Linked DNA regions of Homo sapiens: region 1 is reported to be linked to region 2. The links are microRNA targets in miRTarBase. Many come from high-throughput screens and were not tested one by one. Region 2 holds a microRNA gene; the other region holds the end of a gene's coding sequence.
Evidence for each region. Region 2 holds the annotated microRNA hsa-miR-218-5p (UUGUGCUUGAUCUAACCAUGU, at 1,598-1,618, opposite strand). A microRNA usually pairs through its seed, bases 2 to 8, with sites in the 3' UTR of a target mRNA and lowers its output. Matches are read on the target gene's strand: a 7mer-m8 pairs with bases 2 to 8, a 7mer-A1 pairs with bases 2 to 7 and ends in A, and an 8mer does both.

Region 1: the mRNA of SAP130 is a reported target of hsa-miR-218-5p. The part of its 3' UTR that is shown has no 7-base or 8-base seed match.

What each region holds. Positions count from the first base shown.
Region 1 is chr2:127,939,297-127,942,400 of GRCh38, reverse strand. It overlaps SAP130 (Sin3A associated protein 130), which reads left to right. Exons shown (of 21, transcript NM_001330301.2): 21 at 237-1,179. The coding sequence ends at 395. Among named protein-coding and RNA genes, the nearest start is that of AMMECR1L, 55 kb to the right of the region's middle.
Region 2 is chr4:20,526,706-20,529,916 of GRCh38, reverse strand. It overlaps MIR218-1 (microRNA 218-1), which reads right to left and starts at 1,642; the gene lies at 1,533-1,642. It overlaps SLIT2 (slit guidance ligand 2), which reads right to left. Exons shown (of 37, transcript NM_004787.4): 16 at 818-968.

The DNA of each region.
Region 1 (3,104 bases), not on the chromosome of region 2:
TGATCATCTACTTTATGAAGTTGCTTTCTGTAAAGCCCTACTTCTCCCGTTTCCCCCCGTCTCCCTCATATCTTCAGTAAAAACATACGTGCTTCAGCCTGCACTCCTGAGAAACAAAAAGACATTTTCTCTGTTGTGGAAGCCTCAACATGGCCTCTGCCCAAAGGCAAGCAGTTTTTTAAAAGCTGTACTATCCTCATGGTCACTGATTGATGATGCAATGTCTTCTGTTTCAGGGAAATATGCAGAGGTGTAAACTTGTGATGGATCAAATCAGTGAAGCCAGAGACTCCATGCTTAAGGTTTTAGATCATAAAGACCGTGTCCTGAAGCTGCTTAACAAGAACGGGACTGTCAAAAAAGTGTCCAAATTGAAGCGAAAGGAAAAAGTCTAGACCCAGAACAATCAGGAGATTGGAAGCAAATTTATGAAGAATGATGGTGGGGGTGGGGGGAGGGTTTTGGTTTTTTCCAAAGTGGAACATTGAAATAAAGGAAGTGTTCCTTAGTTCCCGTGTGAAAGCAGAGGAACCCATGACATCCAAGGGCGTGAAAGGATCAGAGCTGACTGGACATAGTGAGCTGCCTTCTTGCGTTCGGGTGCACCCCTGTTAAACCTGATCTGTGTCATAAGTGACTCCGGATGCATCAGTGTCCACCAGTTGGAAGCAATGACAAGGATGGCTGGCTGGTGTTTTTCAGCCTTCCGGTTTATAGACTGTATTTATCTAGTGGATTCCTGCAGGCCCCATACTGAGCCTGGACTGAAAGTATCCACTCGGACCATCTGTTATCTCTCTACACTGAAAATAAAACCTCTTCCACCCACCCCATTCGGTTCTTCTGCCTGACCTTCAAATGCCCATGTTGGCCTTTTACAGCAGTGCCACGGCACCAAGCGAGCTGCCACATCTCACACTCTAAAGGGTTTGAACTATTAGTTCTTGTCATTTTTTAAAAAAAACCATTCCCAAGTGAAATTGTTATATCGTCTGTCTTGCGTGTGTCAGAACTGGGTTTTTGTGGAGGTTCAGAGCAGGCAACACCATAAGTTGCTCTCAGATCCTTGTTCTGAAGTACATTCTTGGTTATCTGTACTTCTGTAGCTGGTGTGATGCTGTTAATTGTATGTACCACACATCTCCAGACGTTAATAAAGGACTCAAAGAGGTTTTTGTACTTGCGCAGTTTGCATCTTTTTGTAAAGTGAATCAGTGCCATACTGACCCTCACTGAAATGTTTACCCTGCTTCAGTTTTTCACACATTGTTGGGAGCCTACTTTGTTTGTTGAAGTTATGCTGTTCGCATAGAGTTCCTCTTAGAGGGTAGTCTAAATATGCTACAGTGGTGAAACCTGTTGGATCTTGGCTCCCTTAAATACGAGCCTGTATTGTGGCCCAGTGCGGATAAAAATTGGTCCGATTACAGGACTATTAAGGCTGCAGTACTGGGGGCGGAGCTTTCGGGCGGGTGGATCCTCTCCACACATTGCTCTTCGTCTGAACTAACCTGAGTGGAAAGGCAGCTCAGATCGGCTTCCTTTGGGCACAAGACCAACCGTCTCCATCTGGCCTCCATGTAACAGACCAGGAAAGATTTTTCTCAGAGGCTTCTGCCTCTGCAGACACGACGTGACCACCCTCCTTCCTTAGGACACCTGCTTTCAGCTACCAGGTTGGGGCTAGAGTGCTTCCCTTTGCTCTGAGTTGAACAGATTTGAGATGGGCCGTGTTCCATTTCTACCCATGCCTTTGGGACCAATGCCCTGGCTCACCTGAGACAGCCTTCCTCATAGTAGAATGGTAAGCTGTCATCTGTGGGATTGGGAAGACCACCCAGGCCTGCAGAGCCTAGGCTAAAGACAGCCTGGGCGCAATCGAGGCTGCTTGACTAGAGTATTCGATGAGGATATGGAGAAAACTTGAGAAGGTTTTACTAGGTGCCAATCTAGCATAACTCCTAGAATAGTGTTCCTTTGCTGCAGTTTCTCATCAGTACACACATTGCCTTAGTGGTCACATGTGGTCTTTGGTTAGAGCAGGAAAGGATTCAGGTATGTGGGATCCTATATTATAGACATAATTCTCTATGGCTTTTTTTTTGTTTGTTTTGTTTTGTTTTGAGACTGGATCTCACTCTATCACCCAGGCTGGAGTGCAGTGGCTCAATCGTGGTTCACTGCAGCCTCCAACTCCTGGGCTCAAGCGATTTTTCTGCCTCAGTCTCTTGAGTATCTGGGACTACCAGTGCTTGCCACCATACCCAGCTATTTTTTTTTTTATTTTTCTTTTTAAGAGATGGGATCTCACTGTGTTGCTCAGGCTAGAGATTACTTTTTTGAAGAAAGCTTGTCAGTACAAGCCTCGAAGTCAGTGCAGGTAAGAAAATAGTGTTTTCAGGATTTCTTCCCCTTATGAGGACAATGCAGTCAGAAGTTAGAGGCAAAGGGGATGATTCTTGCCTACAAACAATGGTTTTTGAATATAGTTTTATTGGCTGGGCGCAGTGGCTCACACCTGTAATCCCAGCACTTTGGGATGCCAAGGCAGGCAGATCACTTGAGCTCAGGAGTTCAAGACCAGCCTGGCCAACATGGTGAAACCCCGTCTCTACTAAAAAAAATAAAAATTAGCCAGGTGTGGTGGCGCATGCCTGTAGTCCCAGCTACTTGGGAGGCTGAGGCAGGAGAATCACTTGTACCTGGTAGGCAGAGGCTGCAGTGAGCCAAGATCACACCACTGCACTCCAGCGTGGGTGACAGAGTGAGACCCTGTCTAAAAACAAACAAAAATACAGTTTTATTAAAGAGGAATAGTGGCCCACGCCTGTAATCTGAACACTTTGGAAGGCCGAAGCAGGAAGATCTCTTGAGCCCAGGGGTTCGAGGCCAGCCTAGGTAACATAGTGAGACCCCACTTCTACAAGAAAACATTTAAAAAGAAAATGGCTTGTAATATTTTTATGTCTTCATAACGAGTGATTTTTTTTTTTTTTTGAGATGGTCTTGGTGTCACTCAGGCTGGAATACAGTGAGGCGAACACAGCTCACTACAACCTCAACCTCCCAAGTGCAAGCAATCTTCCTGCCTTAGTTTCCTGAGC
Region 2 (3,211 bases):
TATATACAAACAAACAGACAACGAACTTTGCAAAGCAGTAAATGACAAATACCAGATGGTGCTATATATAAACATGGCTAAGATGTTTAGAGAATGATGAGGTTTTGCTAGTTTTTTCCCTGAATTGTTAGAACACTAACATTAAAGGTCCTCTTCTTATAAATAAAGTCAGTAAAGGCAAACCATGCATGGGCATAGAATCTGTAAGTGCTCCAACAAACACCTTAGCACTTAGTATGTGCAAGGTCCTATGTTAAGGCTGTTAAGTGTAAATACCATCATATTCTGCCTTTTCAGCTTTTCTTGCATTGTTCAGAAAAAGCTATCCTTTCTACTTTAATACTTGATAACCACTGAATCCTTCTGCCCGTAAGTCAATGAAGTAGTAAATTAGGTAAGACAGACTCCTTGAATCTATTGATAGTTTACAGAGATTGAAAATGGAGGCTCTCAAACTACTTTATTTAGTTGCTATAAGAATTAAATACGTTAAAAACTAAGTACTTAGAAAACAAATTGGGAATAAATAATACCCAATAAATAAGCATCAAATAAATACCATTGTTATTAGTATGAAGTGCTTACTGAATTTTGAGAGATAAATTAGTTTCTGTACTTAATCGTATGGTTGGCTAGAAAGATGAATGAAGGTAGCCTCTAATATATTCTTGTACAAAATAGAGTTATGCCAATGTAATGCATATTAATTAAAATTAATGCAATTATTAATAATAAAAATGGCAAGACAAACATTCTTATGCTTTAATGCTTTCATTCCCTCCATCCCAACCAGAATTTTGTTGGGGGATGAACTTACAACTCTGCAGTGTACTGGGGAATGTGCTCCGGGATTTTGTTGAGCTTTTGATTAGAGCAATCTACTGTGGTTCCTTCACAGCGACACTTTTCAGGGCAAGCCAGATCCGCAAAGCAGTCTCCACTTAATTTTGATCGATAATCTTCTGTACCTATTGAGAATTCAAACCAAAAAAAAGATACTGAGTCTAAAGGTTAGAAAATTTATTAGTTTGTAGGAAGAAAAAAGTAAGATAACTATAGATTATGTAGCAGGGAGACAACTTGGGGTATTTTGGTCAATGGATGTCAGGAGAAAGGTTAAAAGAAAGGCTTGGAATTTTCTGGAAAAAAGAGTGACCAGATTCACATGACAGGAAAACATTAATAAAGTTGAGCTTTTCACAGCTGTACTTTCTGCTGATCCAATTCTGAGTCATTCTAGCCTACTTCACAGCTAGTCACACAATGGATATTAATTATTAAAAAGTTTATTTTTTTTCTCGGAGTCAAGAATTGAAAATATATCCAGTAATAAACATGATCCTATATCTCATTGTAAATTAGGGCTTTCAAGGCAAATAGATATACTCAGGCTTTTAAATTTTCTATGGACTTTTTACTATTCTCTCCCTCTCACATAATCTCGGAGATGCCTAAAAAGCCCTCTTTTTTCATTTTGATTTTGTAGAAAGAGACAGGAAAATCCTGATTTAAGCCTCAGCAGCTTGTCATGCTGTAGAAAGCTGCGTGACGTTCCATGGTGCTTGACGGAACCATGTTTTACTCATACCTCGCAACCACATGGTTAGATCAAGCACAACAGAAAATCTCGCTACATTATCACTACACCAACCACTAGGCCAAAGGTAAGACCAAGAGGAAAATGGAGGGAAGGAGGAGAAAAGCTACAGACGTTCTGGAAACGTAATACTGTTTACATGACATGCATTCTTCCCGCAGAATGTTTATGACCACAGTAAGAGTATTACTACCGATGATTTCCTGGAAACACAAAGAAGGGGCTATATGGAAAAGGTGCCTCCACCATTCCTCAGAACTGCAGAATGGAAACAACAGCTTTCGGGAACAACATCCAGGAAGAAGTTGAAGGTGAGCTACAAGGACAACAGAGAAGCTCAAAAGATCTGTGGTTTCTTCTTGAAAAAAAGGTGCCAAAGACCAAGACTAGAAGAAGGTACATCAGGATTGAAAAGGGAGGGTATTATGTTTCAGATCAGACACTTTTACTTACAGCCAAAATGGTGAATTCCTGCAAAAGTAAAGATCACCAAGAAGGAAAGAAAGAGTAATCCCAATTAAGATTAATATACATATTTATAAAACTAAGCTCTCTTCCTTCTTTCTTTATTATGGGAATTATTGAAAAAATAGCATGATGTGATGGGAATTGTCATGCTTTGTAAAATTTTATAAATAATATTTTGAAGCACGGTGGTCTCACAAGAAAACCAATGTAATAAAAGATGCATAGTGCAAATTAAGTTCTTGATTCCTTTAAAAGATGAACTCTCAAGGCCGGGTGTGGTGGCTCACGCCTGTAATACTAGCACTTCGGGAGGCCAAGGCGGGCGGATCACAAGGTCAGGAAGTCAAGACCATTTCACCTGACGGGTGAAAACCCATCTCCAGTAAAAATACAAAAAATTAGCTGGGCATGGTTGCGGGCGCCTGTAGTCCCAGCTACTCGGTGAGGCTGAGGCAGGAGAATGGCATGAACTCGGGAGGCGGAACTTGCAGTGAGCCGAGATCATGCCACTGCACTCCAGCCTGGGAGACAGCGAGACTCCATCTCCAAAAAAAAAAAGATGAACTCTCTGCAAGACAGATTTTCTTTTATCACTGTAATATGTAGAGTGCCATATAAAATGGTAGTAGCGAGGTACACACGTAAAAGTGAATGAAAAACTAATCATGGAGATCCTCAAGGACAATCATTACAACATTTGGATTAATCCTTATGTTGTGATGTACACTTTTTAATGAACTTTTCAACTTATAAATAATGTGTCTTAGTGGAAATGGAATCAGAATCTCATAAGAAGTTTGCGATGGTAAATATAATCGTTTCATTACATTTGGCAGTTAATGCCATGATATTTACTGAGGATCTGGTGTCTTATGATTTATGCTTCACTCCAAAATGAAATAAGAGTGCACAAAGTCTAAGTGACAGGTACACTGGATATCTTGCAATTCAAATAATCTGCATTCAACGGAACAGTAATAATGCTTATTTTATGGTGGCTTGTTAGGTGGACTCAAATTTTAATTAAAATTTTTGGAAAAAAGGGGAGGAAGCCCAAATGATCCTTTTGAGTCCTGGCTTCTACAATTATCATGTTTAAAGAATGTAAATTAAATTATCATAAATTGAAACTTAAGACATGATATT